Linked DNA regions of Homo sapiens: regions 1, 2, 3, 4 and 6 are each linked to region 5. The links come from fine-mapping of genetic effects on gene expression. A gene starts in region 5. Each other region holds a variant in brackets. All regions are shown on one strand. Distances are between the middles of the regions.

Region 1 (5,071 bases), 22 kb before region 5:
TTCTCCCTGCCCCCACTGGGTAATAGCAATCTTAAGCTTTACAATTGGAATTGATCGCCCCAGCCAACAGTGGGACCCGCTTTTTATTTTCTTGCCCAGTGGCATGTGGAGCGAAATATGGCCTACTGACGGACGATCTGATCGTGATTTAGAGAAACTTACTGCGCCCCCTGGTGGAAGCATTATTCCCTTGGGTCTTAAAAGCTCTAAATCAGCCAGAGCGCAGAGTTGAGATTCCAAGAATGTGCATGTAAAATTCCTACTCCGTGATTCCTGTCTGTCAGAGAAACACTATATATACTGTTTTCTATATAGAGAGAGTACCTGTTGTTCGGCGACGTAACATGTCTTTCTTTCTTTCTTTTTTTTTTTTTGAGACAGGGTCTTGCTCTGTCACCCAGGCTGGAGTACAGTGGAGCCATCTTGGCTCACTGCAAACTCCACCTCCTGGGTTCAAGCGATTCTCATGCCTTAGCCTCCCAAGTAGATGGGATTACAGGCACCACCACCACGCCCGGCTAACTTTTGTATTTTTTGTAGAGACTGGGTTTCACCATGTTGGCCTGGCTTGTCTCGAACTCCTGGCCTCAAGTGATCTGCCAGCCTCAGCCTCCCAAAGTGCTGGGATTACAGGCGTGAAACACCACGCCCAGCCCGTAACAGCATTATGTGTAATAGCTCCAAACTGGAAATAACCCAAATGCCCATCAGCAGTAATATGGATTAAACAGCAATGTAAGAACTATTACCACAAAAGGACATGAATGAATCTCAGCCAGGCATGGTGGTTCGCGCCTGTAATCCCAACACTTCAGGAGGCCAGAACGCAAGGAATGCTCAAGGCCAGCCTGGGCAACATAGTGAGACCCTGTCTCTATAAAAAAAAAAATCAAAAATTAGCTGGGCATGGTGGCGTGTGCCTATAGTCCCAGAGAGGCTGAGGTGGGAGGATTGCTTGAGTCAGGGATGTAGAGGTTGCAGTGAGCCAAGATTGTGCCACTGAGATTTTTTTTTTTTTTTTTTGAGACACTGTCTTTTTTTTTTTGAGACGGAGTTTTGCTCTATTGTCCAGGCTGGAGTGCAACGGCACAATCTCAGCTCACCACAACCTCCGCCTCCTGGGTTCAAGCAATGCTTCTGCCTCAGCCTCCCAAGTAGCTGAGATTACAGGCGCACACCACCACGCCCAGCTAATTTTTTTGTATTTTTAGTAGAGACGGGGTTTCACCATGTTGGTCAGGCTGGTCTCGAACTCCTGACCTCATGATCCACCCGCCTCGGCCTACCAAAGTGCTAGGATTACAGGCATGAGCCACCATGCCTGGCTGACGCTGTCTTAAAAAAAAAAAAAAAAAGATTAGTCAGGGTGTAGTGGTGTGCCTGTAGTCTCAGCTACTCGAGAAGCTGAGGTGGGAGAATTACTTAAGCCTGGGAGGTCGAAGCTGCAATGAGCCATGATTACACGACTGCACTCAGCCTGGATGACAAAGTAAGACCCTGTCTTAAAAAAAAAAAAAATCTCAAAAATGTAATACTGTAGACAAAGCATTGTGGGGGCTGAAAAAAAAAAGGAAAAAATTAATATTGAACAAAAGAAGCCAAATTCAAAATAGGACATATTGTATGATTCCATTGACATACAGTTACACAGACACACTAATCTTTAGGGCTAGAAGCATGAGATGGCTACTGAGGTGCTAGTGATGTCTTTTTCTTCATCTGGGTAGTGGTTACACAGGTTTGTCTATTTTGTAAAGATCAATCAAGCTACAATTATTTTGCATGGTATACCTGCATCAAACCATCTCGTGTACCCATAAATATATACACCTACGATGTACCCACAAAAATTAAAAAATTGAAAAAAATTAGTCAAGCTATGAACCCGGAAGGCGGAGGTTGCAGTGAGCCGAGATCACGCCATTGCACTCCAGCCTGGGCAACAAGAGGGAAACTCCGTCTCAAAAAAAAAAAAAAAAAAATTAGTCAAGCTACATAAGATCTATGTGCTTCTCTTTATGTATATTTCAATTAAAAGTTTGAATTTAAAAATAGTACTAATAATAAATAGGCTAGCTGCATATAATTGGAAAGGCAGCTTATGAACCCAGCATCAATAGCTTTCAGTTCTTTTAGGATTGTTTAAGAAAAGGTTACATCAGCTGGCCAGGCGTGGTAGCTCATGCCTGTAATCCCAGCACTTGAAAGCCTAGGCGGGCGGAACACATGAGGTCAGGAGTTCGAGACCAACCTGGCCAACGTGGTAAAACTCTGTCTCTACAAAAAATACAAAAATTAGCTGGGGGCACCTGTAATCCCAGCTACTCGGAAAGCTGAGGCAGGAGAATCACTTGAACCCAGGAGGTGGAGGTTGCAGTGAGCTGAGATAGTGCCACTGCACTCTAGCCTGGGCTGGAAGGAAGAATTTGTTAAGGAGCGACAAGAGCAAAACTCCGTCTCAAAATAAATAAATAAATAAATATAAACAAATAATGTTGTTACGAACATTCTTGTACAGCTTTATTTTTTTTTTTTTGAGACGGAGTCTCGCTCTGTCACCCAGGCTGGAGTGCAGTGGCGCGATCTTGGCTCACTGCAAACTCCGCCTCCCAGGTTCACGCCATTCTCCCACCTCAGCCTCTCCAGTAGCTGGGATTACAGGCGTCCGCCACCATGCCCGGCTAATTTTGTTTTTGTATTTTTAGTAGAGATGGGGTTTCACCATGTTAGCCAGGA[C/T]GGTCTCGATCTCCTGACCTCGTGATCCGCCCACCGTGGCCTCCCAAAGTGCTGGTATTACAAGCGTGAACCAATGCTCCTGGCCTGTTTTTTTTTGTTTTTTTTTTTTAAGAGACAGGATCTTGCTATGTTGCCCAGGCTGGTCTTGAACCCCTGGGCTCAAGTGATTCTCCCACCTCACCCTCTCAAGTAGCTGGGATTACAGGCATGAGGCATTGCACTCAGCTTCTTGTACAGCTTTCTTGTGTGTATATCCAGGAGTGGACTTTGCTGGGTCATAGGGTATGTGTATTTTCAGCTTTAGTGATTATATTTATATATATATATATATATATACATATGTATATATATACATATGTATATATATGTGTATATATATATATGTATATATGTGTATATATATATGTGTATATATATATGTATATATATTTTTTTTCCTTTTTTTTTTTTTTTTTCTTGAGATGGAGCCTCGCTCTGTTGCCCAGGCTGGAGTGCAGTGATGTGGCTCCAGTGGCTCACTGGAGCCTCAAACTCCTGGGCTCAAGTGATCCTCCCACCTCAGCCTCCCTAGTAGCTGGGATTACAGGCATGCACCACCATGCCCAGCTAATCTTTTTTCTTTTTCTTTTTTTCCTTTATTTATTTATTTATTTATTGAGAAGGAGTCTCGCTCTGTCGCCCAGGCTGGAGTGCAGTGGCGCGATCTCGGCTCACTGCAAACTCCGCCTCCCGGGTTCACGCCATTCTCCTGCCTCAGCCTCCCGAGTAGCTGGGACTACAGGCGCTCGCCACCACACCCGGCTAATTTTTTGTATTTTTAGTAGAGACGGGGTTTCACCGTGTTAGCCAGGATGGTCTCCATGTCCTGACCTCGTGATCCGCCCGCCTCGGCCTCCCAAAGTGCTGGGATTACAGGCGTGAGCCACCGCGCCCGGCCCCGGCTCCTGCTCCTCTAAATATTAGAGGCAAGCCTCGAACCGGAGCTCCGGGATGCATGCCAATCTCCGGTTGCGCCTGCGCGTCGGGCTCCCGTGGGGTCCACGCATTTCCTACCCGGCCCCCGCGAACAGGCGTAAAGCTCTTTCTTCAGTGCTCGCTCTAGTGCGCGCGCCCGGACGGCGCCTGCGCAGAGGGCAAGGAACCTGGTACCCCGGTGCGGTCCCGGCGCCTGCGCGCTGCGGACTGTGGGGCTTCTCGGCCCGAGGCAGAGGAACAGGGAAGATGGCGGCTGTGGTGGAGAATGTAGTGAAGCTGTGAGTGGTCGTTTCTTTCTCTCCTAGGGCGGCAGGTTTTGTAAAGGGCCTGGGAGTAGGGGGCGGTGGGGGAAGGGACTAGGCGGAGAGAGGGACATCCCCGGGAAAGCCATGTTGCGACTCCTGGTGGGGAGGGCAACAGGAGACTCCGGAGAAGACGTTGCGCTTCTTTGGAAACTTGTGGAGGCCCTGGTGGGGGCACACTGGAGCCCCGACGGGCGGCATCCCTGCGGGGCTGTGTGGCCTCAGCGTTCCTCGGGGCTGACGGTTTCCAGAGCATGGCGCCCTGCCTGCACGCGAGACTCACCGTCCCGGTCCTCTCCCGAGACGCCTCAGTCCGGAGGAGCGGGGCCGAGGCCCGGGCGGCCCTACGGCTGGCCCGCCGCCCACCCCGCCCCGTCCCGTCCCGTTCGCTGCAGCAACAGGCTCGGCGGCCCCTGCGGAGTGCACTGCGGGGCTGGCTGTTTCAGTTCCAGGCAGCCCCGTGATGTTTGGGAGGATCTTGGGTGGCAGGTACCTAAGACTACAAATATTCTTGGGAAGAATTTATCGAGGAGCGGATCCAGAAGGGAAGGAACTTCAGGGGAGTGGGCCTTGGCCCCGTCCAGTAGCAGCCATCAAAAACCTGCAACTGGACCGAAGCCGTTCAGGACAGCTTAGCCTAAAGGGGCATCTAGGTGGGCATTCTTCCTATTATACGATACCATTGTGCTGGTCAGATTTCAAGCAAAGTTAAAGTTAATAGCTGTTGGGGCCATGGACGCTGGCCTATGAACTGCTTCCTGTGAGTTAAAGATGCTTTGGGACTTGATTTATTCCTACAGAAGAATCAGAATGAGTTTTAGATTGGGTTAATGCATGGTGGGCGAATAGAGCTTCTTTTAATGGGTATGTTGGGCTTGGTGCAAGGGTGGGAAAATTGAGTGGTGTCTAGCTGTCCAGTCAGGGTTTTTGCATTTTGACTGGATGACGAGGTAAAGGTTCGGTAACTCTTCTAAGGGACTCACAGCTTCTCATCTGTCTTTGTCGTGGCCTGAGCCCCACTCTTCCTAAGAGCCTTTTTAAAGAGTAAGTTGCTTCTC
Region 2 (5,061 bases), 150 kb before region 5:
CACCTTTTAGAGTCCTAATGCAGTCACATGCCTCCTCGCTGCAAGCTGTGGGAGGGTTCTTACCCTTTGCTTCAGTCCACACGCCCTAGTCCCTGGCCGGCTCCTGGGAGCTCTGCGGCCTCCCTGGGTCTCCGTGTTTCCTAGAGCCTCCGTAAGTGCTCCCTGTCCGCAGATGCGTGGGGCCCTTCCTCACCTCTGCTCTGGGGTGCCCTCCGCCTGGCTTCTGCTTCTCAGCAGCTTCCCAGGGCAGCCCCTTCGGGTCTCAGCGCATAGGTCCCCTACTCTGATCTACTCCTGCTTGCTTTTTTTTGCAGTTGCTCTGCTCGCTAACCTAACGGACTTGCTCAGACTTAAGCCTCTAGTTTCCAAATGCAGGCCGTGAGGGCATGGACCGAGCCTGGCCCAGCCTGCCCATCACCCTGCATGTTCCAGGTGCTCAATAATATTTGTTGAATGAATGAATGCGTGCACAGGGACGTGCTGAGGAGGCTTGGGGGCCAATTGGCTCTGCCCCGCCCTGCCTCTGATCCCCGCCTCCTCACCTGCCCGCAGCCACCTTCTGGGTGAACCCTCAGTTCAAGATCCGGCTGGATGAGACGGATGACCCGGACGACTACGGGGACCGCGAGTCAGGCTGCAGCTTCGTGCTCGCCCTTATGCAGAAGCACCGTCGCCGCGAGCGCCGCTTCGGCCGCGACATGGAGACTATTGGCTTCGCGGTCTACGAGGTCAGGAGGGTGGATCACCGGTGGATCTCACTGAGCAGGCAGAGGACCTGGCGCCCCCGACCCGCAGTGCAGGCGGGCTTCCACCAGGGGGCGCCAGGGACCATGCCCTTCCCCACAAATTCCCCTCCACTCCCCCCACCATCCTGAGGGCTGGGAAATCTCAGCCTCCAGGAGGCACCTGCTGAGGCCCTCTGGCCGAAAGAGAGGAAGGGGGTTGGCTCAGGGAAGGGAGATTCTGGGATTCACCTCACGCTTAGAGGGCGGCCTGCTGCTCTTGGAGGAGGGAGCTGGCTCAGCTGATGCCTGGGAGTACTGAGCCCTCCGTCTTGGAAGCTGTGAGCAGAAGCTGGCAGGGGAAAGATAGGGGATAGGGAGGGCCTGTCGGCCAAGGTGAGGCTGTGCCAGTCGCTCTGGGATTAGAACTCCTTGCTCTTGCCCTGTATCTGCCCTGCTTCACACACTGCCCTCAAGACAGGGAGAGAAACTTCTGGACCTCCCTGGTCGCAGTCTTGGCCCACACCCAAACCCCCTGGCAGCAGCCTGCGGTGGCCCTTTCCTGTCCCTGGGCTTTGGAACATTGCAGTTGGCCACCCCGGGGGCTGGCCTGGAGCCTCTGACTCAGAATGGAGTCCTAGGGCAAGCATTCCCAGGACCAAGAGGACCCTGCCTGAGCCCTCCCTCCTGGGGCCCTGCTGTGGTGCAGGGACCAGATCTGGGTCCCCAGGGCCCTGCCTTCTGCCTCCTTATCCCATCAGTCCCGTCTAAGAACTCAAGACCTCTGCCCAGCATGCACTGTGACCCCGCCCTGGGACAAACACACATCTCTGACTTCCCCTGTCTCTCTATTGCAGGTCCCTCCGGAGGTAGGTGTGGCACCATGACCCACCTGCAGTCACACACCCCTGATGGTGCCAGAGGGGAGCAACCCAGTGGCAAACCCACCCTGGCCTGGAGAGCTAAGAAGTCACCTTGTTTCACTGCTTGAAAAATGCTTCTCCCCACCTGTTCAGTGGGCAGAGCAAACATTGCTCTCCTGAGGGTCAGCACAGGTAGTCAGTGAGGGAGCTGGATTTGAGCCCTGGTCCTCAGAGCCCCTGTCTGACATGTACACATGAGGCTTTTCCTGCCTTGCCATCTACACCAAGTAAGTGCCAACTAGGGCGGTCCAGCAATGTCAGGAGCAGGGCATTAGACAGGCTGAGAGTTCTGTACCCTTGAGCAGTTGCTTAAGCTCCGAGCCTGTGTTTGTGTCTGTAAAATGGGTGTAACAGCAGAACAGCAAATGAGGTGCCGAGTACCCTGCAGTACCTGACCTGGGGAAAGCTCCCAGTGATAATAATGACAGTGTTATTGAAACACATGCCTAATCTGCAATCCGGTGCTCCTCTCCTCTACCCTCTGCAGTGAGTAGGGTTGTTACATTTTACAGATGAGGAAACTGA[G/A]GCAAAATGTCTTGTTAGGGTCACACAGGCTGTGAGTGAGCCATGCCCCAGCTCTCCAGCCCCTTGGCCAGGACAAGGAGCCTGGAGTCTGGGTCTGGGGGTGGCCCCTGAGGGTGGGCTGAGTGGGCAGCTGCAGCCCTGCTCCCTCCTCCCTCCCACCAGCTGGTGGGCCAGCCGGCCGTACACTTGAAGCGTGACTTCTTCCTGGCCAATGCGTCTCGGGCGCGCTCAGAGCAGTTCATCAACCTGCGAGAGGTCAGCACCCGCTTCCGCCTGCCACCCGGGGAGTATGTGGTGGTGCCCTCCACCTTCGAGCCCAACAAGGAGGGCGACTTCGTGCTGCGCTTCTTCTCAGAGAAGAGTGCTGGGACTGTGTGAGTCATGGACTGGCCCCTGCCACTCTCCCCTCTCCCAGCCTCCCCTCTCAGGCCCTCTGCTGTCCCCCTCTGACTGGCTCCTTTCCTCCCCACTCTCTGCAGGGAGCTGGATGACCAGATCCAGGCCAATCTCCCCGATGAGGTGCGTGGTCCCACCCCACCAGGCCCCGTCCTCCTCTCTTCCTCACCCCTGGGTGTGTGATGGGGACCCAGGTGTCCTGTCCCCTGAGTTCCTGCTAACAGGGAAGATCCCCTCCTGGTGGAAGCCATAGGAGTAGTGCTAATCCCTCATCCGCCCAGCACTTTACAGTTTGCAGAGGACCTGTGATACTAATGGCACAGGCCCTGAGCTCTCACCCGGTGGCGGGTTTGTGCTGAGCACTTCACCTGTGTTACCTCATTTCCTCCCCACATCAACCCTGTCCGGGTCTTGTTACCATACCTCCTCTGAATGGGAAATTCAGGTTCACAGAGGTTAGGGAACTTGCCTGAGGCCATACAGTAGGGATCCAAACTCTTGCCTTTTTTTTTTTTTTTTTTTTGAGAGAGTCTCACTCTGTCACCCAGGCTGGAGTGCAATGGCGTGATCTCGGCTCACTGCAACCTCCGTCTCCTGGGTTCAGGTGATTCTCCTGCCTCAGCCTCCTGAGTAGCTGGGATTACAGGCGCACGTTACCACACCTGGCTAATTTTTGTATTTTTAGTAGAGACGGGGTTTTGCCATTTTGGTCAGGCTGGTTTCAAACTCCTGACTTCAAGTGATCCACCCACCTCGGCCTCACAAAGTGCTAGGATTACAGGTGTGAGCCACCGCACCTGGCCCAAACTCTTGCCTTTTACTCACTGAGCTGAACAGCATCCCCTTCATTTAGGTCACATGAGTGCTGGATATGGGGCGGGGCAGGGCAGGGCAGGAACGAGATTCCCTTTTCAGATTAGAAAAGTGAGACTCAAGCCGGGCTCAGTGGCTCACGCCTGTAATCCTAGCACTTTGGGAGGTTGAGGCGGGCGGATAACCTGAGGTCGGGAGTTTGAGACCAGCCTGGCCAACATGGCAAAACCCCGTCTCTACTAAAAATACAAAAATTAGCCGGGCATGGTGGTGGGCACCTTTAATCCCAGCTACTCAGGAGGCTGAGGCAGGGAGAATGGCTTGAGCCCGGGAGGCGGAGGTTGCAGTGAGCTGAGATCACGCCACTGTACTCCAGCCTGGGTGACAGAGTGAAACTCCATCTCAAAAAGAAAAGAAAAGAAAAGTGAGGCTCAGAGAAGCGAAGTGACTTGTAGCAGATATGTGACCTCAGCCCTCCCTCCAGCTGCCTCCACACGGGCAGGGCCGGGGCCTCTCTTACCTGCTTTCTCCCCTTCTCGGTCCAGCAAGTGCTCTCAGAAGAGGAGATTGACGAGAACTTCAAGGCCCTCTTCAGGCAGCTGGCAGGGGAGGTAGGTTGGGGCATGGCAGGTTGGGAGGGGCCTGTGAGGGGCAGCCCTCTCCTGGGGCAGGTGCCACCTCCTCTCTCTCCCCAGGACATGGAGATCAGCGTGAAGGAGTTGCGGACAATCCTCAATAGGATCATCAGCAAACGTGAGTCCCCGCGGGGCTGTCCCACCACCCCACCATTTCTTCCACATCAGAATCCAGGCTCCTGCTCACACATTGAGCTGAACCTCATCCCTTGGTCTGCATGAGTCGGGGAATCCTCCAGTTTTTCTGAGCCCAGTTCCCTGCCATTTCCATCCCATACTCCTCCTCCTGACCTGCCATCCTGATAATCCCTGTGCTCGGGTGCTGTGCCTTTGTGGGATTAGCAGCGCAGCCTGGCCAGGCACAGTGGCTCACACCTGTAGTCCCAACACTCTGGGAGGCCGAGGCAGGAGTCGCTTCAGCCCAGGAGTTCAACACCAGCCTGGACAATATGGAGAGACCCTGTCTCTGCAAAAAAGTACAAAAATTAGCTGGGCGTGGTGGCATGCACCTATAGTCCCAGCTACTCAGGAGGCTGAGTTGGGAGGATGGCTTGAGACCAGGGAGGTTAAGGCTGCAGTGAGCTGTGATCACATCAGTGCACTCCAGCCTGGGCAACAGAGCAAGACCCTGTCTCAAAAAAAAAAGCAGGAGCAGCACCTTAGTGCCAAAGAAAAGTCTACCTTTCCTCCCAGAGCCTCCTGGGCCAGGCTGAGTGGCTTGGGGAACACCACGTGACTGGCTTCACTCCCCAGGGCAGACAACTGCTGGCCTCTCATCCCCTCCCCTCCCCTTTGCTGCCACTGACCTCCATCCACACGGTTTCCTTAAGCAGAGCTTTTCTCCTCCTCTTCTCTGCTAGTGAAGCACTGCTTACCCTCCTAGCCTACAGCAAGCCCTGCCCTGCCCCATCTTTCTACCCAATTTCTCGCTCTTCTGTTTCACACTCATTTCTTTTTACTTTGGACTAATTGTGGCTGTTGGGACTTTGGCTTGATTGCTAAAATACTTTACTTGTACTTCCTGATGATACAAACAATCCTGCCCAC
Region 3 (5,071 bases), 90 kb before region 5:
CGCTTGGATGCCAAATCAAAAATAGGAATATGCAGCACGATTTTAAACCAACTCGAAGTTCCCGAAAGGCGGAATTGGGATGTGCTAGATAGAGACTAGGCACTGGTGGCACCTGAGTTTGGAAATTGTTGAAGCCCCGGTAACAAAGCAACAGATGTGGGGGTTTTGAAATGTAGCTTTTTATTCTTGGCTCCTCCCTTTCCAGCCTACACCTTAAACCTCTGCTGATCCATCAGTTATTTTATCATAGCTGTTGGTGGTCTGTGCAAATATGAATCCCTTGAGGTAGGTTCCTAAAATTGAATTTGAGCTGTGGAAGGAGCTTTAGGGAGCTTTACAGATGGAGAAACAGACAAGGAAAGCTAATTGCCTGAGCTGTCTGTGAAGCCAGGTGTCCTGCCTTGGAGTCCCGTGCTGCATCATACGGGTCCATCGTGTTGGTCAAGCTGTAGAGCAGTGTAAGGAGTCATTTGAAGCAAAGCCTGGGAGATGTGGAAGTTCTAGAATCGGTATGAATGTGCACCTGCCTTAACCACTCAACACTTTGAACTTCTTATATACAAAAAGATAACGAAACGTTAATTTATGGTGAGAAATTCCTTTCAGAAACCAGAATACTTCAAGTCTTCATGCCCAGTGCCTTCTCTCTCTCTCTTTTTTTTTTTTTTTTTTTTTGACAGTCTTGTTTTATCACCCAGGCTGGAGTGCAGTGGTGCAATCTCGGCTCACTTCAGCCTCCGCCTCCCAGGTTCAAGCGATTCTCCTGCCTCAGCCTCCCAAGTAGCTGGGATTACAGGCGCCCGCCACCAGGCCCGACTAATTTTTTTTTGTACTTTTAGTAGAGAAGGGGTTTCACCATGTAGGCCAGACTGCTCTCGAACTCCTGACCTCAAGTGATCCACCCACCTTGGCCTTCCAAAGTGCTGGGATTACAGGCATAAGCCAGCAGGCTCGGTCCTTCTCTTTTTAAAAGAAGACTAGCCAGGTGTGGTGGCTCACGCCTGTAATCCCAGCATTTTGGGAGGCCAAGGCAGGTGGATAATCTGAAGTCGAGAATTTGAGACCAGCCTGACCAACATGGAGAAACCCTGTCTCTACTAAAAATACAAAATTAGTCGGGCGTGGTGGCGCATGCCTGTAATCCCAGCTACTCAGGAGGCTGAGGCGGAAGAATCGCTTGAACATGAGAGGCAGAGGTTGTGGTGAGCCGAGATCACACCATTGCACTCTAGCCTGGGCAACAGGAGCGAGACTCTGTCTCAAAAAAAAAAAAAAGACTTAAGTGGAAAACCTGATCATAGTCAGAAATGTATGTGGTAAGCATGAAATCAGCATGAGAGAAATTAGTTATGTGAACCAGATTTGTAAAGGCTTCAGGCCAAGATGCCAGTTGCTTTCATCTCATGGCAATGGCTTTGGAATTGTGGACTTTGGATCATCAGTAACTTCAGTGGCACCTTAATGTTTCCTGACAGTCAACCGTATTTCCCTGTTTTTTTTGTTGTTGTTTGTTTTGTTTTTTGAGATGGAGTTTCTCATTGCCCAGGCTGGAGTGCAATGGTGCAATCTTGGCTCACTGCAACCTCTGCCTCCCGAGTTCAAGCGGTTCTCCTGCCTCAGCCTCCCGAGTAGCTGGGATTACAGGCTCCCGCCACCACGCCCGGCTAATTTTTTGTATTTTTAGTAGAGATGGGGTTTCGCCATGTTGGGCAGGCTGATCTCGAACCCCTGACCTCCAGTGATCCTCCCACCTCGGCCTCCCAAAGTGCTGGGATTATAGGTGTGAGCCACCACACCTGTTCTACTTTTTGTATTTTCAGTAGAGACAAGGTTTCACCATGTTGGCCAGGCTGGTCTTCAACTCCTGACCTCAGGTGATCCGCCCACCCTGGCCTCCCAAAGTGCTGGGATTACACTGCGCCAGGCCCCTGGTCTCTTTACTCTGAGTCTTCCAGATGATTGTTTTCCACCTTCTCCTGTAACATCCTTCTGTCCCACCCTCACTCTCAGCTGACAAATTTCTATTATTTGCTGAAAAATGTAGAAGCATTAGAAAACTTCGATCAGCTACCACCATTATGTCTCACTGACCCATATCTGTGGCATATACCTAGCCTTCTTTCCTATTATAATGAATAAGCTTTCCGTATTCCTAGCAAAATCCAAGTCCTCCACTTGAGTCCTAAACCCCATTCCTTCTGAAGCAATTAAGGACATCACTGGTAATTCTCCTGTCTTACATATTTTCTATTTTCCTTGCTACAAGATTTTTTTCCTACTAGTATAGAAATGTGCTTCCAATCTTGCCTTTAAAATACTCTGTTGACCCTACTTCCCACTCCAGTTCTCTCCTTCCCAATTACAGCAGACCTCAAAAGGGTCGGCC[G/A]GGTGCGGTGGCTCACGCCTGTAATCCGAGCACTTTGGGAGGCGGAGGAGGGCGGATCACAAGGTCAAGAGATGGAGACCATCCTGGCCAACGTGGTGAAACCCGGTCTCTACTTAAAATACAAAAATTAGCTGGGCATGGTGGCGCATGCCTGTAGTCCCAGCTACTTGGGAGGCTGAGACAGGAGAATCGCTTGAATCGGGGAGGTGGAGGTTGCAATGAGCCGAGATCGTGCCACTGCATTCCAGCCTGGCAACAGAGTGCAACTCTGTCTCCAAAAAAAAAAGGGGGGGGGCCTTGCCATCTTTAAATATTTCCTCCTTAAATCCATTTCAGTAAGTTCTTTTGTTGCCACCACTTCACCAAAGCTGCTCTACTCAAGGTCACCAGTGACCTTCACCATGCTAAAACCAGTGATGAATTTTCAGTCCTCATCTTGAATTGAATTAGCACCGGCACTTGACACTGTTTGTCATTTTTTCTTTTTTTAAACACATTTTTCTTTTAGCTTCTTAGACACTACTAGTTTTTCTTTCTTTTTTTTCTGAGACAGGGTCTTGCTCTGTTGCCCAGGCTGGAGTATAATGGGCAAATCACAGCTCACTGCAGCCTCAACCTCCTTGGCTCAAGCAATCCTTCCACCTCAGCCCCCAAGTAGCTGTAACTACAGGCACATGCCACCAAGCCCACCTAATTGTTGTATTTTTTATAGAAACGGTTTCACCCTGTTGCCCAAGCTGGTCTCAAACTTCTGGGTTCAAACAGTCTGCCCACCTCAACCTCACAAAATACTGGATTACAGGCGTGAGCCACTGCATCCGGCTTACTCCTAGTTTTTCTTCAGCTTTGCTTGTGTCACCGCTTCTCAGGCTTTGCCGATTCATCCTCAGAGGCCCTAAGGCGCCCCAAGACTCAAGCCTGGGATCTTTTCTCCCTTCTAGATACGCTCACTCCCTTGGCGATCTCACCTGGGGTCTCATAGCTTTATATCCCATGTATTTACTGATGGTTCCCAAATTTATACCTCCGCCCACAACCCTTGCCTGAACTACAGGCTGGTTTGTTCAGCCTGCTGTCTCCAGTTGGATGTCTAAATGGCACCTCAAACTCTGCATGTCTAAAACTAAGCTCCTGGTATCTCCTCTCTCTCCTCAGAGTAGTTCCTCTGGCTCTTTTCCCCATCTCAGTTAATAGGGACGCCACTCTTCCTGTTGCACAGGCTAAAAATATCAGCATCATCCTTGACTTTCTTTTTCTCATACCTTACATTCAGTTAGCAGATCCCACTGGCTTCACTTCCAGCATGTAAAGTCCTATCCAGAGTCCAGCCACTTCTCGCCATCTCCACTGCCACCACCTTGATCCAAGCCACCATCATCTCTCACCTGGGCTTTTCCATGATTCTTTAATTGGTCCCCCTGATTCTGCCCTTATCCTCTTTTGTCTCCCCTCAGTGGTGAGCTTTGTAAGGACAAGGATGCTTCTGTTTTCTCATTGCCCAAAACAGTGCCTGGCACTAATAGATTCTGAATAAACATTGATGGAGTAAACCAGGATTATTTTTGCTTTTCTAGGTGAAACTTCGAGAAATGAACTAAGTTTTTACTTGTCCAATTTTCCTTTCTACAGTGGTAGAGCTTTGTGTTCAGTATGGACAGAATGAGGAGGGAATGGTAGGCGAGCTTATAGCCTTCTGCACCAGCACACATAAAGTTGGCCTTACCTCAGAGATCCTGAACTCTTTTGAGCATGAGGTAAGAACAAAATGAAAGCAAACTAATAATGTGATTCTCCATTTCTGCTCTACAGGGGAGGCATTGTGATATATTGAGAGGAGTGTGGGCTTTCGAGTCAGGCCTGGATTCCAGTCCCAGTGTGAGCTTGGACAAACTATGTCCCTGAGCCTCAGTTTCCTTTTCTGACATTGGGTCTAATAATCTGTATTTTTTATGATTGTTATAAGAATTAAATGGGGCTGGGCGCCGTGGCTCATGCCCATAATCCCAGAACTTTGGGAGGCCGAGGCAGGCAGATCACAAGGTCAGGAGTTCAAGACCAGCCTGGCCAACGTGGTGAAACCCTGTCTCTACTAAAAATACAAAAATTAGTTGGGCATGGTGGCAGGCGCCTGTAATCCCAGGTACTCGGAAAGCTGAGGAAGGAGAATCGCTTGAACCGAGGAGGTGGAGGTTGCAGTGAGCTGAGATTGCGCCACTGCACTCCAGCCTGGGACAGAGCGAGACTCCATCTCAAAAAAAAAAGAAATGAGAATGGACATAAAGCACTTAAAACTATGCCCAGCAGGTGATAAGTCTTCACCAAATAATTGGTATTATTAGGATTGTTATATGTTATAGACAGTCATGGGATGTCTTTGTTTTTAGTCTGTGTGTATCTTAATTCTTTGAGGAATGTTAGATCTTTGATTATATTTTGAATACCTTTTATTATCTCAAGGCTTTTGAAAACACCTCTGCTATTACTTGACTATGAAGTACTGTATTCACTATCTTTTCTTTTTCAGTTTCTGAGCAAAAGATTATCGAAAGCCAGGCATAGTACCTGCAAGGACAGTGGCCATGCAGGAGCTAGAGACATTGTTTCCATTCAAGAGCTGTATCCTTTTCTGCTGAAGGTCTTTGCACCAAGCTACATGTTGTATTTTATAATTTGTCTGTAGTCGCA
Region 4 (5,071 bases), 130 kb before region 5:
GAAGAAATCTTGGGACCAGAGAACCAGGACACCTGACCTCCCCTCCCTCTCCCAGCACACAGCGGGATCTCAGCCAATCCCAGCCTACACAGCTCACTCTGCAGGGTGGGCATCCAGCCATGGCTTGAAACAGGTGTCTGAGGTCCACCTCGTGCTGGAATGGGCTCTAACACCTACACAGACACATACAGACACACACAGACACATACAGACACACATACACACGCATCAGAGACTGCCCAGCCTCTTAACACTTCCTGAGGCTGGAGAGGCCGGGCACTGTCTGGGGACATCTCCGCCTGTAAAGACGACTTTGTAGAGATTCCATCGAGTGCCCTGGAGCTCCCACCACAGGCCATGCCCTGCCTCGGGTCCCACCGCACAAGTGTGGTGACCCTCCATACATATATGCCTCCCCTCATGTTTGTTCCTGCGCACACTGTTCTGTATCTTGATTCTTTCACTTAACCAAGCTGTCACTGGTCCACTGCCTGATAGAGAGCCTCCTAGTGCCAGGAGAGGCTCTAGAGGTTGCGGTGAACACAGCCCTGCTCCTTGGAGTCCATGTTCTAGCGAGGCGAGATATCACCAGCATGCATAACGAATCGTATAGTATGTTCGAAGACAGTAAGTGCTACAGAGGAAAACCGAAGCCTGGAAAGGGGATAAGAATGGCCGGGTTGGCCAGGCGCAGTGACTCATGCCTGTAATCCCAGCACTTTGGGAGGCCAAGGCGGGCAGATCGCCTGAGGTCAGGAGTTTGAGACCAGCCTGGCCAACATGGTGAAACCCTGTCTCTACTACAAATACAATTAGCCCGAGCATGGTGGCGGGCGCCTGTAATCCCAGCTACTCGGGAGGCTGAGGCAAGAGAATTGCTTGACCCGGGAGGTGGAGGTTGCTGTGAGCCGAGATCGCACCACTGCACTCCAGCCTGGGTGATGGAGTGAGATTCTGCCTCAACAAAACAAACAAACAAAAAATCCCACAAAGAATGGCCAGGTTGGAGGGGAGGGGTCTGCAGTTTTAATTAGCGTGGTTTGGGAAAGACTCACTGAAAAGGGGTCATTTTGAGCAAAACTGGAAGGAGTTGAGGGAATGAGCCCTGCAGGTTTCTGGGGTAGAACATTCCAGGCAGAGGGAACTGCCAGGCAGAGGCCCTGCAGGGGAAAGTGTGCCCAGGGTGAAGAGCAAGGAGGGCCCTGTGGCTGAAGCAGAGTTGGGAGGTGGGCGACAGGTGAGGTCGGGGAGGGCAGTTCTGCAGGACCCTGTGTCCAGCGTTCTAGGACTTCAGCTTTGTCTCTGAATGAGACAAGAGCCACCGGAGGATTTTGACCAGGGAGAGACCTGATCTGATTTAGGATTTGAGATCTGATAAGATCTATGTGGCTGCCATGTGACACCAGGACGGAAGCAGGGAGGCCGGTTAAGGGGCTGCTGCTGTCATCAAGCAAGAGACCAGGTTGAACTGGGCCACGGTGGCAGCAGCAGAGGCAGTGAGGAGAGCTTAGATTCTGGCTTAATTCTGAAGGATTTGCTGAAGGACTGGACGCACAGGCTTCTTGCCCATTGGGAAGAAGCTTCCTCATTAATTTGTTACAGCTGCCTCGTAAGGGTGTGTCATCATTACTTAACCAGTCCCCTACAGATGGACATTCAGGTTGTTCCAAGTTTTGCTATTTATAAAAATTAGTATTTTCTGTCTTTGCATGGGGTTGAGCACCTCTGCCCATTTTCCTTTTAGCTTGTTGGCCGTTTTCTAATTGATTTGTGAAAACTCTTTCAGTATTAGGGAAATTAGTCTTTCTTTCTTCTTTCTTTCTTTTTTTATTTTTTGAGACAGAGTCTTTAGCTCTGTCGCCCAGGCTGGAGTGTAGTGGTCCAATTCATTTCAGCTCACTGCAACCTTCGCCTCCCAGGTTCAAGCGATTCTTGTGCCTCAGCCACTCGAGTAGCTGGGATTACAGGCACACAACACCATGCCCGGCTAATTTTTGTATTTTTAGTAGAGACGGGGTTTCGCCATGTTGTCCAGGCTTGTCTCAAACACCTGACTCAAGTGACCCGCCCGACTCAGCCTCCCAACGTGCTGGGATTACAGGAGTGAGCCCCC[G/A]CGCCCAGCCCAAAATTAGTCCTTTATCTGCTAGTTGGGTTACAACTATATTTTTACATTTTTTGTTGACGTTATGGCTTGACTTACGGTGTTTTGTTTTGTTTTATTCCAATGCGGACATTTTTTATTTTTACGACTCCAAGTTTGTCAACCTCCCCTTTTATTGCCTCTGGGTTTTGTGACTTTCTTGGAAAAGCCTTTCCCTACTCTAAGATTATAAAATAATCTACCATGATTTCTTCTGGCATTGTTGTGGTTTTATTGTTTATTGAGTTCTTTGATCCACTTAGAATTTATCTGGAGTGCAGTAGGGACACCTTTGCCTGTGTCTCAGAGGGTCTCTGGAATGAGTTTAAGTGGTCAGAATCATAAGGGGGGGTGTGGTGAATTAACCACATGGGTAGCTGAATGCCGCTGAATGTCACTGTTTTCTCCCCAGTTGTGGAGTGGATGCCCACACGGGGCCGGACTGTGGCGGGTATTTTGCTGGGGTATTCCTTCACCCTGGGCCAGCTCATCCTGGCTGGGGTAGCCTACCTGATTCGCCCCTGGCGGTGCCTGCAGTTTGCCATCTCTGCTCCTTTCCTGATCTTTTTCCTCTATTCTTGGTATGTCCTGAACAGAGTGGGGTGGGGGAGGGTGCACCTGTGTGGCCGAGTCTTCACCTGGCCCTGTGAGAGGTTGGGGTGTGCAGTGACCGGGGCTTGCTGGACTTGACAGGGGACACAAAGGATGGCAGGCGTTCATGGAGGCTGCAAGCTCTCAAGTCCTCACGAATGGCTACTGGGACGCTCTGGTAAAATCCCTTGCATTAGTGTGGGGCCCTGGAACGTCCCAAGAGCTTTTGCCTTCATCAACTCCTTCGCATCCCTCAACACTTCATAAGTACTCTAAGTGCTTATAAAGTTATAAGAATATAACTGGGGCATATATAAGAGGGTAATGAAGCACAGCCCAGAGAGGGCCCATGACTCACACAAGGCCACACAGCTGGGGTCAGAACCAGATTCAAAACCGGGTCTGGGATAGGTGTGGTGGCTCACGTCTGTAATCCCAGCACTTTGGGAGGCTGAGGTGGGCAGATCACTTGAGGTCAGGAGTTCGAGACCAGCCTGGCCAACATGGTGAAACCCCATCTCTACAAAAAAAATAATTAAATAAATAAAATAAAATTAGCCAGGCATGGTGGTGGGTGCTTGTAATCCCAGCTACTCGGGAGGCTGAGGTAGGCGAATCACTTGAATCTGGGAGGCAGAAGTTGCAATGAGCCGAGATTGCTCCACTGTGCTCCAGCCTGGGCGACAGAGTGAGACTTGGTCCAAAAAAAAAAAAAAAAAAAAAATGCCACGGGTCTGTTGAAATCCTAAGTCCTCTGTAGTTTTGTTTTTTTTTTTTTGGTTTTTTTTTTGTTTTGAGATGGAGTTTCCCTCTGTTACCCAGGCTGGAGTGCAGTGGCGCGATCTCGGCTCTGCAACCTCCACCTCCCAGGTTCAAGCGATTCTCCTGTCTCAGCCTCCTCCTGAGTAGCTGTGATTACAGGCACACACCACCATGCCCGGCTAGTTGTTTTGTATTTTTAGTAGAGATGGGGTTTCATTATGTTGGCCAGGCTGGTCTCAAACTCCTGACCTCAGGTGATCCACCCTCCTGGGCCTCCCAAAGTGCTGGGATTACAGGCGTGAGCCACCGTGCCTGGCCAAGTCCTCTGTAGTCTTTAAATACTGTTCAGTGAGTCTCTGTATGATGTACTGCAAAAAAAGGGAAGCTGGCATGGCCCCCAGACTTCCTGATGCTACAGACAGGAGGACAGGTCATCTTTTTTGGGTCTGAAAGAAGGTAGACAAGGGGGTATTGGGTTTGGGGAATAGAATGAGCTCTACCCAGCCCCAGATCCTTCTTCCTCCTCTCGGTCCCAGGTGGCTTCCAGAGTCATCCCGCTGGCTCCTCCTGCATGGCAAGTCCCAGTTAGCTGTACAGAATCTGCAGAAGGTGGCTGCAATGAACGGGAGGAAGGAGGAAGGGGAAAGGCTGACCAAGGAGGTAAGCGAGCTGGGAGGAAGGAAGGGTGGGAACAGTCTTCAGTCTTGCTGGCAACCTCCAGTTGTACTAGAATTTAGCAACTTCCCAGGACTCACGTGCCATCCAGGTGTAGACATTGGGAATAAACAGGACAGGCAGAGTTCTCATGTGCGAAAGATGTTGTTTAGGTATTGAATGATTGTGTGATTTAGGATAAATAATTTAACTGCTTTGCTCATCAGTCAATCCACCTTTGTAATTAGGAAATAACCCTATTAACCTTGACATCCAGTTGAAATTTTAATAAAATAATAAACTAAAATTATTAAAATAGCAACCACACAGTAAAATTACTGGGGAATCAATAACAAAAGCACCATTATAAATACCATTTATTATAAGATAGTTACCATTTATTATCAATAAGCATCATTTCTCAAGCCCCATGCCGGGCACTAGGCTGAGAGCTTTATGTATGTAATCTCATTTCATGTCTCATTTTTGACAAAGAGGAAATTGAAGTGGGGACAGGACGGGTAACTTGCCTGAGAACACACAGTAGGAAGTGGCAGAACCACTTGGAACCCCTGCTCTTATCTGACTCAATCTCCGAGTCTATACCAGGAATGGGGTGGGAGGCCCTCCAGAACCGCAGAACCTCAGTAGTGTTGGAGTTCGTGTTGGAGCTTCTCAACACCCTGGAAACAGTGTGTTGGCACTTCTCAACACCCCTCAAGTGCCATCAGTCCTTGGACGGAGCGGAGACAAGGGCCAGCCACCTCACCAAAGACCTCAACCCCAGCTCTCCTCCACACAGACGAAGGGGTTCCCAGCAGGGATGTGGGGTCCGAGCTCCCTCGCTTTCCCTGAGCAGAGTCTTCTTACCTAGGTGATGAGCTCCTACATCCAAAGCGAGTTTGCAAGTGTCTGCACCTCCAA
Region 5 (5,071 bases):
CACGTCCACAAGGAGCTTTTCATGCCCCTGTGCCGCATAGCCTCACCTCTTTCCTCCAGAGTGGCTCTCTGCGGCCCTGTGTTCCTGCTACAGAGTGTTCTTTTCTGGAGTCAGGATGTTCTCGGTCACCCTCCTGGTTCTGCCCTGTCCCATTCCACCCCACCCCAGGGGGAACAGTAGCTTCACCTTGTTATTCCCATTGCTCTCCTGGCTCACTCTTACGGTCGGTCTCCAGTGACTGAAGCATTCCCCACCCTTGGAATTTCTCATCTTCTGCCTCCCTTCCTACTCCTTTTGGTTTTGTGGGGAGAGGGGAAGGATCAGGGGGCCAGGCCAGCAGCTCGGGGGCCACAAGGAGATGGATAATGTGCCTGTTTTTTAACACAACAAAAAAGCCTACCTCCAAAATCCCCTTTTTGTTCTTCCTGGACCTGGGCATTCAGCCTCCTGCTCTTAACTGAATTGGGAGCCTCTGCCACCTGCCCCGTGTATCCTGGCTCTCAGCTCATGGGGAAGCCACATAGACATCCCTTTCTTCCCTTGCACGCTCGCTAGCAGCTGGTAAGGTCTTCACACCCTGATTCCTCAAGTTTTCTGCTTAGTGGCACTGACATTAAGTAGTGGGGGGACAGTCCATGCCAGGACACCCTGGAGTAGCCTTCCCCCTTGGCCGTGGGCAGGCCCTAACTCACTGTCGCTTTGGAGTTGAGGTGTCTTTTTTTTTTCTTTCTTTAGTTCCTGTATTCTAAACATTAGTAAAAATAAATGTTTTTACACAGAGCCCTCTGCTGGATGGTTTATCTCCTGCCTTTCTCCATTAAGAAGGCCATTTCATCCTAAGATTTCCATGATGGTGGTTTTTTTTTTTAATGTTTTGAAATACAGCTTTTTTCCCCCCAAATTAAAATTTTTTTGTGGAACCCCAATATGTAAAGCGAATATAAAATTGGTTATTTTGTTTTGTTACATAAATTCAAGTTTATAACAATTCTTTGTTATAAAGAACAATGAAGCTGTTTTGATCAATACAAAATTTGGGTTAAAATCAACTTTAACATCTATTTTTATGTTTCAGTTGATTTGGAGAATTCTCCTAGTCTTGGATACATAGATGGAAGTGATGACAGGTTTATAACAGTTGACCTTGCAATCTCAGACATTTAAAACAGGACCAGAAGTTTATATAAATATAATTAATAAGCAAACTAATGACATCACCATGGGACACACACAAAAGTTCTTGCAGGAGCAGGGTCTGTGTGGCTTCAGTTGCCTGCAGCGCTCCCAGGCCAGAGCAAGTGCTCTAGGATCTGAACTGCCCGCAGTGCAGCCCTGCAGCCTTTCCCAGGGCACGTTGATGTGCACACAGTTTCCCTGAAGGCAAAGTGAACATGTGGAGAGCTTACGTGGCAGCGCGTATGTCTTCAGTGTGTGTTTTAGAAGTCCAACTGTTGTTTTTATGTTTTTAAAGGAAAGATTTGAATCAAGCAGTTATGGGCCCCCTGAAGTATCCTTTTTTCTAGAACATTCTGAAAGTCATCCTTGCCTATGGGAAGCCTAGGCCGGCCTGCACTGTTATGTTCAATAAATAAGCAGGGTGCTCTGGGCTGGGGATTGTGTGAGGAGCAGAGCGCAGCCCGTCCTCATGCTTTTCCACTGAAGTAGGCCAGGCAGAGAGGGAGTACAGCAATGGATGCGCTTTGGCAGCTGAGTAGTCCGAGAGCCAGAAAAGAAATGTGGAAAATAAGAACGCTGTAGCAGGCCTAGGTGAGGAAATTTAGGAAGGGTTTGCGGGAGGTAGGATTTGAGATGGGTCTTGGAGAGTTGGACAGTGTCAGCCGGTAGGACGGGGGTGCGGACGGAAGCCTGTGAGGAAGGCAGAGGATGCGGAGCTGTGAGCGGAGGGAGCAGCGAGGCTGGAGAGCAGCTGGGCTGCGGGTCAAGACGTCTGCGTTTAATTCGGGACTGAAGGTTAGCAGGGAAGGGAACGATGCCAGATCTTGAGTTTAAGAACTTGAATCTTGTAAAGTACCAAATCTAATAAAATACTCGTCCTAAATCATTACTGGCCCAAGCATGCAGTGTTTCCGTGGCCGACAGACTCGAGCCAGCGCTGTCCATGGTAACCAGCTTTTGTGTGGCTTAAAGCTTGCATCCATTTTCTCCTTTCATCGTTTTCCCAAAACAATTCCGTGAGGGCTGTTAGCCCTGCTTGGTAGACGAAGAAGCCGATGCGGTCTAGGGTCACGGCCAGGGAGGCTTTGGGACGCCAAGTCAGCTCGGCGGTCACCACACCACCTACAGGGCTCGTCGGGCCCTCGGGGTCGGCGGCTGCTGGAGGCGCCCAGGGGAGTCCTGCTGGTTCCTGGCTCCGCCTCCCGCCCCTCCGCGCTAGAAGCCCCGCCCCCAGAGGGGCTCGACGAACCGCCACTTCCGCAACGTCCAATGAAACTTAGCCGGGGGAGGGACGGGGCGCCACTGAGGACCAATCTGCTTGGGCCGGGGCGGGGCTGCGGCGGGTGGGTGCAGAGGGGCCGCACCGCGGACTTCGCAGCCGGGAGAGAGCCCGGCGCGGGCGGCGCGCACGGGACTCTGCTGTGCGCGCGCCCGCCCGCCCGCCGTCCGCGCAGGCCCTCGGTCCGCTCTGCCCTCGGGGTCGTGGCGCCCATCCCTCCCCTGTTCTGCTGTCGCCGCCCGGACAGGGGCTCGGGAGCCGGGCTGGGGGCAGGGGCTGGAGCCGCGGGACCAGCGCCTGAGGTGGGTGCGGAGCGGGAGGCCGGGCGGGCGGGCGCCTGGGGCCGCCCCGCCGACATACTCCGGGTCGAGGGGGAGTGACCGGCCAGGGCACGGAGTCCGGCTGCCGGCCTGCCTGGGTCCGGGCGTTCGTTCCCGCGCCCTGGGACCCTCCCAGGCCACCACCCTCCCCGCGGGGACACCCCGCCCCTCCGCTGCCCGCAGCCTCCTCAGGCCTCCCGCCCTTTGTCGCTCGTGCACCTGCGCCCTCGGCCCTGCCCTCTCGCTCCCCTCAGGACTGACCGTCGCCTAGCCTCCCTCTCAGGACCCGGCACCAAATTAGCCTCGCTCCTTCAGACACCCTCTGTCCCCTTTGTCGTCTGTACACCTGTCACCTCAACTCTGTGTGCATCCACCCACCTCCCACCCCCCAGCGGCGTCATCTGAATCCAGCCCAAGCCGCCTCCCACTCCCTCCCGGGGGCTCCTCCCCCGCAGCCCCGTAGCCCCACACCTGCCCCCTCGGCCCCAGTCCCAGGCCCTCCCCCGTCCGTATGCCTTTGTTATCTCTGCAGCTGTCCCCTGCACTTTTCATCCTTCTTCCCGAGTGAGGCCAGACCCCAGCCCAGACTCCCCTGTCCTTCTGAGTGGAGAGACGCCCCCTCCCCAGCTCTGCCCTGGCATCCTGGGGACGGGGCCAGCCGGCTTCCACTCGGCCTAGCCACTTCCTCTTTCAGCGGGTCCAGTCTCACCCGGTGCCTGCGCAAGTCCTCATCTAATCTCTTTTCCCTCCTGCGCTCCTTTCCTAGCTCTTCCGGCCTCAGATTACTCTACCCGCTCAATCTTTCCTCCCCGCACAGGTGCCCCGGAGAGGCCATGGAGCTGAGCAGCAAGAAGAAGCTTCACGCCCTGTCCCTGGCCGAGAAGATCCAGGTGCTGGAACTCCTGGATGAGTCCAAGATGTCCCAGTCGGAGGTGGCCCGGCGCTTCCAGGTTTCCCAGCCCCAGATCTCGCGCATCTGCAAGAATAAGGAGAAGCTGCTGGCGGACTGGTGCAGCGGCACAGCCAACCGAGAGCGCAAGCGCAAGCGGGAGTCCAAGTACAGCGGGATCGACGAGGCTCTGCTCTGCTGGTACCACATTGCCCGGGCCAAGGCCTGGGACGTGACGGGGCCCATGCTGCTCCACAAAGCCAAGGAGCTGGCCGATATCATGGGCCAGGACTTCGTGCCCAGCATCGGCTGGCTGGTCCGCTGGAAACGCCGAAACAACGTCGGCTTTGGGGCCCGCCATGTTCTTGCGCCTTCATTCCCCCCTGAGCCACCTCCCCCGGGGCTCACATCCCAGGCTCAGCTGCCTCTTTCCCTAAAAGACTTCTCTCCAGAGGACGTGTTTGGCTGTGCTGAATTGCCCTTGCTGTATCGGGCAGTGCCCGGCAGCTTTGGTGCATGTGATCAAGTACAGGTGCTGCTGTGTGCCAACAGCAGGGGCACCGAGAAGCGGCGGGTACTGCTGGGTGGGCTCCAGGCTGCCCCGAGATGCTTCTTTGGGATCCGCAGTGAGGCTCTGCCTGCCTCCTACCACCCGGACCTGGGCATCCCCTGGTTAGAGTGGTTGGCACAGTTTGACCGGGACATGGGACAGCAGGGCCGACAGGTGGCTTTGCTGCTGGCTGCCCGAGTGGTGGAGGAGCTGGCAGGCCTGCCTGGGCTCTACCACGTGAAGCTCTTGCCTCTGGCCGCCTCTAGCACCACGCCTCCCCTGCCCAGCTCAGTGGTCCGGGCCTTTAAGGCCCATTACCGACACCGGCTGTTGGGCAAACTGGCTGCCATCCAAAGCGAGAGGGATGGCACCTCGCTGGCCGAGGCCGGGGCAGGCATCACCGTGCTGGACGCCCTGCACGTGGCGTCTGCCGCCTGGGCCAAGGTGCCTCCTCAGCTCATTTTCAGCAGCTTCATTCAAGAAGGGCTGGCTCCCGGCAAAACGCCCCCGTCCTCGCACAAAACCTCTGAGATGCCACCAGTCCCCGGCGGGCTGAGCCTGGAGGAGTTTTCCCGCTTTGTGGACCTGGAGGGTGAGGAGCCAAGGTCTGGAGTATGTAAGGAGGAGATAGGCACTGAAGACGAGAAGGGGGACAGAGAGGGTGCCTTTGAGCCCCTGCCCACCAAAGCTGATGCCCTCCGGGCCCTGGGCACCTTGAGGAGGTGGTTTGAATGCAACAGCACTTCTCCTGAGCTATTCGAAAAATTCTACGACTGTGAGGAGGAGGTGGAGCGGCTTTGCTGCCTATGAAGGCGCCTTCACTGCTTGCCAGAGCCCCTTCCTCTCTTGTTTCCCAT
Region 6 (5,071 bases), 79 kb before region 5:
TCGTGCCACTGCACTCCAGCCTGGGCAATCAGAGCAAAACTCCATCTCAAAAAAAAAAAAGAAAAGATGAAACTAGCCAGGCGCAGTGGCTTATGCCTGTAATCCTAGCACTTTGGGAGGCCAAGGTGGATGGATCACCTGAGGTCAGGAGTTCGAGACCAGCCTGGCCAAAATGGCAAAACCCCATCTCTACTAAAAATACAAAAATTATCCCGGCATGGTGGCACATGCCTGTAATCCCAGCTACTCAGGAGGCTGAGGCAGGAGAATTGCCTGAACCCAGGAGGCGGAGGTTACAGTGAGCTGAGATCATGCCACTGCACACTCCACCCTGGGCAACCCTCCGTCTCAAAAAACAAAAACAACAACAACAAAAAAACATGATGAAATTGGCATTAAGTGTTAATAATGAATCGTATGAGCTTGGTTAAAGGGAGCGCATCCTTGAGAACTGGTACTGGAGTTGGTGAACACTATTGGATTTCAGCCCTGAGGCTGAGGACTAGAACACCAGACTGTGCCTTGTTTACCAAAGTGCTGTCACCTTGCCACGTCTTGCGAGACAGACTGTCATTCTCTCAAAATATCCCTGCCCCACAACACTGGCCGTGGAGTGTTGTAGCCCACTGTATATTAGGAGAATCTTTTGGAGGGATAGTTTGAGAAAATGTGTTAAAATTATAAAATCTTTTTTTTTTAATTATAAAAAAAATAAAGGCAGGGTGTCACTATGTTGCTCAGGCTGGTCTTGAACTCCTGAGCTCAAGTGATCCTCCTGCCTCAGCCTCCTAAAATGCTAGGATTACAGGCACGAGCCACCATCCCTGGCCAAATTCATAAAATCTTTTTCTATCATTTGACCCAGTAATTCTCCCTAGGGGGAAAAAAAAAACTCTTCTGAAGAAATAATTCAAATTATGGGAAAAGCTGTATGCATGAAGATACGCATTTTAGCATTTTTTTAATTTAAAATCTTAATTTGCCAAATCACTTTTCACCTGAGACTCAGCATTACTTGTAATCACTGAAAATTACAAGCAACCCATAATCCAGCAATAGAGAAGTAATTATGTAAATCATTGTAGGTCAGTTTAATTAAATAACACAGCTACTAAAAAGGATAAAGACCTGTAATCCCAGCACTTTGGGAGGCCGAGGCAGGTGGATCACCTGAGATCAGGAGTTCGAGACCAGCCTGACCAACATGGCGAAACTCACATCTCTACTAGAAATACAAAATTAGCTGGGCGTGGTGGTGCATGCCTGTAGTCCCAGCTACTCAAGAGGCTGAGGCCAGAGAATCACTTGAACACGGGAGGTGGAGTTGCAGTGAGCTGAGGTTGCAGTGAGCCGAGATCGCACATCGCACTCCAGCCTGGGCAACAAGAGCGAAGTGAAATTCCGTCTCGGAAAAAAAAAAAGGGAAAAAGATTGGGTCAGGTGCAGTAGCTCATGGGTGTAATTCCAGCATTTTGGGAGGCCGAGGCAGGTGGATCAATTGAGGTCAGGAGTTTGAGACCAGCCTGGCCAACATGACAAAACCCCATCTCTACTAAAGATACAAAAATTAGCTGGATGTGGTGGCGGGCACCTGTAGTCCCAGCTACTCTAGAGGCTGAGGCAGCAGCATCGCTTGAACCCAGGAGGCAGAGGTTGTAGTGAGCCGAGATCTTGCCACTGTGCCCCAGCGTGGGTGACAGTGACTCCATCTCAAAAAAAAAAAAAAGATTAAAAATGTAACAGTGTGGGAAAATGTTGATAATTAATATAGAGTGAAAAAATTCAGCACATAAAATACTTAGGTTTATATTTAAACTAAGATTATGACTATAATTTGTATATTCTAATTTGTGTATTTGTAATCTTAATATACAAATTATAAGGCACCACGCCTGGCTTTTCTTTTTCCTCCTCAGACATGAGGTCTCGCCGTTGCCCAGGCTGGTCTTGAACTCCTGGGCTCAGGTGATCCTCCCACCTTGACCTCCCAGAGTGCTGGGATTACAGGCATGAGCCACCACCCCTGGCCTAGAAAAATATTAAAATACCATTAAGGAATATTCAAAACTGGTTATTATATCAGGGTAGTAGAATAAGGGATTTTTTTTTTAATCTATTTTCCATTGCAGCTGGTTTTGATGGTTTTGAATCTGTTCTCTGGCATTCTGTCCTGCAGTTGCCACCAGCTGACCACTCTGCAATATAACTTCTTAAACTTGCAGCCAGGAGGAGCCCTAGGGCAGGGAAAGCTGCAGACTAGCTGGCTTCCTGGCTGCTATCCAGGCAAGGATTTTGTTTTCTCTATTACAGTCGATTATCCTAGACTTTAGGGAGCAATA[G/T]GTCTCTGGACTGTAGGTTTCAGCCTCCGTTCTGGGCTTATCTTTGGATTCTTGTTGATGAGTCAAAAAAAAAAAAAAAAAAAAGGAGTGACCATCAGATGTTTGCTAACTCTTCAAGTATGAGCTCAACCTTGTTATCTGCCTGGAGTCATTTCCTTTGAAAATGTATGGTAGACTTTGCCAAAGTAAGTAGTAATGTCCCATTCCTTCTCAGGAAAATGTGTACACATAGATCAAAACTATGCATTGTAAAACTCATATCTGTTTGAAAACATAGAGGTAGGGACAGAAAGTAAACATATGAAGGATTTGACAGGACACATTACCAGCCTGGTGGTCCTTTTTGGAAAATGTTTGCTTTCTCGTAATTGCCTTCAAAATAGGGACAGTGTCCTGAATGTTGGTTACAGTTGTTGAAGATTTCTTTTTGAGATTATGCTTGGATGATGGGGCCTTAAGAAGAGAACCCACCCAGTCCTATTTTGTGCCTTCGTTTGGACATGTTCTCCCTTTTCTTCCAAGGTACTATACACTTAATTAGTATTGGGTCTAGTAGGACTGAGATTTTGTTTTCCTTTTTTTTCCCTAGGGTTCTCAGAAGCGAGCTATCTCTACCCCAGAAACCCCCCTAACAAAAAGGAGTGTGTCAACTCGTAGCCCCCATCAGCTACTCTCACCGTCAAGTTTCTCTCCAAGGTATGGATCATAATTCATTCAAGTGCCATAAAGCTGGCCTCCCCTCCCCTTTCTCTGGCTATCTGAGGAAGGCTAACAGCAGAGTTATTAATTAACTATAGGTGGGCATGTACCTCTGCAGTGAATTGGCTTGAAAGCCTATTGCTCTCTGCCTTCCTTGCTCTCCTTTTCTTTGTGGAAAATTACTGTTTCTTACGGTAATTAAGGAAACTCACTTTCCACCCACTTTTCTAGGGCTCATTTCCTAGATCGGGAACTGATATCTTGTATTGAAAACAACCTGTCTATTCAGAAGTCTAAGAGTCTTAACAGGTCTTGTCAGTAGAGGCAAGTAGGTTTCCACCTGCTTCTGTTTGTGTTTTGTTGGGTTTCTTTTTCTTTCTTTTCATCTAAAGTTTTTTTTTTTAAAGAAAAGCACATATCTTTGTTCATAATGTTTCATAACCTGTTTATTGTTTCCAAGTCAGGTTAGAACTAGTTTCTGAGAGTTTTCTTGTCACTGTGACTCTGCCCTGACTTAATTGGTATTTTGTCCCTCTGCCACCATTGCACATAAATCCACAAAGATCATATGTAATTTTTTGAAATCCATAAATGACACGTCTCATATTAGAGAATTCCATAGGCAAGTGCTCTGCTGAGTAGATGGGTTTTTAGGAGTTTCCACATCAAGATGAGGCTCCGGAGCAGTAGTATTAACCCTTCAGGGAAACACCAACTGCCAGGAGTCATTACCTCTACTTTGGATCACTTCTAGATGAACCAGAGCTTAAGATTGTTCAACTCTATCACTTTTTTTTTTTTTTTTTTTGAGATGGACTCTCACTCTGTCACCCAGGCTGGAGTGCAGTGGCACCATCTTGGCTTACTGAAGCCTCTGCCTCCCGGTTCAAGCGATTCTCCTGCCTCAGCTTCCCGAGTAGCTGGGTCTACAGGCGCTCGCCACCATGCCTGGCTAATTTTTGTATTTTTAGTAGAGACGAGGTTTCGCCTGTTGGCCAGGCTGATCTTGCACTCCTGACCTCAGGTGATCCACCCGCCTTGGCCTCCCAAAGTGTAGGATGTCAAGCATGTGCCACTGCTCTCGGCCTTTTCAGCTCTATCACTTTAGAAAGGTGGTGATAGAAGCTCTGCAGTCATTCAAGGTGAGTGGTCATTGGATTTTTTTTTTCTTTTCTTTCTTTTTTTTTTTTTTTTAAGATAGGCTTTTACTCTGTTGCCCAGGCTGGAGTGCAGTGGCACAACTATAGCTCACTGTAGCCTTGGCCTTCCAGGCTCAGGTGATCCTCCTACCTCAGCCTCCTGAGTAGCTGGGACTACAGGTGTATGCTACCAAGCCCAGCTAATTTTTATAATTTTTGTAGAGATGGGGTTTTACCATGTTGCTCAAGCTGGTCTCGAACTCCTGGCCTCAAGCAATCTGCCTGCCTTAGCCTCCCAAAGTACTGGGATTACAGGCATGAGCCAGCATGCCTGGCAGTAATTGGATTTTGAAGGACAGTTTTACTTTAGGGTAGTCTACTGCTGCTTTGGGGAGTTCTCAGGCTTTTTGGAAGAAAGCTTTCTAGACTTAAGAGCATCTTTGCAACCTGGTATGTAGGGATGGTTCTTATAGACGTGCCAGCACCATTGCAGGAGTTATATTCTCCAAATGTCAATACAATGCTCTGAAACCTGTAGATCTGTTTACAACTGTCCTCATGTGAGCATCTTGCTGCATTAAAGGGCCTGCTGTAATGGATGGCTCATGGAGCTTCCCAGGGAAGAGCTTGGAGAAGCTGGCAAAATGCTGCCTAGTCATTTTTTAATGCACACTAATAAAGCTGACAGCAGAAACTGGTTTTGTAATGTATGAAAGTAACTTCTAAACTATTCACGTAGAGGTGGCACTGGAGATTGAGATAATTAATTGAGCTCATTTTCTGTAGGCTGTGAAAAGAAAGAATGATGGCATTAATTGCGATGGTGCCCCACATAAAACTGGTTCCCGCAGAGTTTCAGTGCATTAAACAAAGCCTGTTTTAAATAGACCTCTC

The links. PIP is the estimated chance that this variant, and not a neighbour inherited with it, causes the effect.
Region 1: its variant is fine-mapped to the expression of TIGD3 in whole blood (TOPMed, PIP above 0.99).
Region 2: its variant is fine-mapped to the expression of TIGD3 in whole blood (INTERVAL, PIP above 0.99).
Region 3: its variant is fine-mapped to the expression of TIGD3 in whole blood (TOPMed, PIP 0.99).
Region 4: its variant is fine-mapped to the expression of TIGD3 in whole blood (INTERVAL, PIP 0.94).
Region 6: its variant is fine-mapped to the expression of TIGD3 in whole blood (INTERVAL, PIP above 0.99).

What each region holds. Positions count from the first base shown.
Region 1 is chr11:65,329,930-65,335,000 of GRCh38, forward strand. It overlaps DPF2 (double PHD fingers 2), which reads left to right and starts at 3,923. Exons shown (of 11, transcript NM_006268.5): 1 at 3,923-3,989. The coding sequence starts at 3,958. RefSeq lists an enhancer at 4,175-4,224 and a silencer at 4,275-4,364. The variant C/T (reference allele first, on the strand shown) is at 2,737.
Region 2 is chr11:65,204,131-65,209,191 of GRCh38, forward strand. It overlaps CAPN1 (calpain 1), which reads left to right. Exons shown (of 22, transcript NM_005186.4): 11 at 553-728; 12 at 1,580-1,591; 13 at 2,333-2,544; 14 at 2,650-2,689; 15 at 3,925-3,990; 16 at 4,075-4,132. Among named protein-coding and RNA genes, the nearest start is that of CAPN1, 25 kb to the left of the region's middle. RefSeq lists enhancers at 1-818, 860-1,049. The variant G/A (reference allele first, on the strand shown) is at 2,171.
Region 3 is chr11:65,262,567-65,267,637 of GRCh38, forward strand. POLA2 (DNA polymerase alpha 2, accessory subunit) reads left to right here. Exons shown (of 18, transcript NM_002689.4): 2 at 4,016-4,140; 3 at 4,911-5,002. Among named protein-coding and RNA genes, the nearest start is that of POLA2, 3.1 kb to the left of the region's middle. RefSeq lists an enhancer at 1-307. The variant G/A (reference allele first, on the strand shown) is at 2,387.
Region 4 is chr11:65,218,444-65,223,514 of GRCh38, forward strand. It overlaps the pseudogene SLC22A20P. Among named protein-coding and RNA genes, the nearest start is that of CAPN1, 39 kb to the left of the region's middle. RefSeq lists a silencer at 3,323-3,552. The variant G/A (reference allele first, on the strand shown) is at 2,114.
Region 5 is chr11:65,352,201-65,357,271 of GRCh38, forward strand. It overlaps TIGD3 (tigger transposable element derived 3), which reads left to right and starts at 2,551. Exons shown (of 2, transcript NM_145719.3): 1 at 2,551-2,757; 2 at 3,593-5,071. The coding sequence starts at 3,609. The coding sequence ends at 5,024. DPF2 (double PHD fingers 2) reads left to right here. Exons shown (of 11, transcript NM_006268.5): 11 at 1-2,062. RefSeq lists silencers at 2,279-2,338, 2,429-2,748, 2,769-2,828, 2,839-3,008, 3,069-3,258.
Region 6 is chr11:65,272,964-65,278,034 of GRCh38, forward strand. It overlaps POLA2 (DNA polymerase alpha 2, accessory subunit), which reads left to right. Exons shown (of 18, transcript NM_002689.4): 5 at 2,929-3,035. Among named protein-coding and RNA genes, the nearest start is that of POLA2, 14 kb to the left of the region's middle. The variant G/T (reference allele first, on the strand shown) is at 2,340.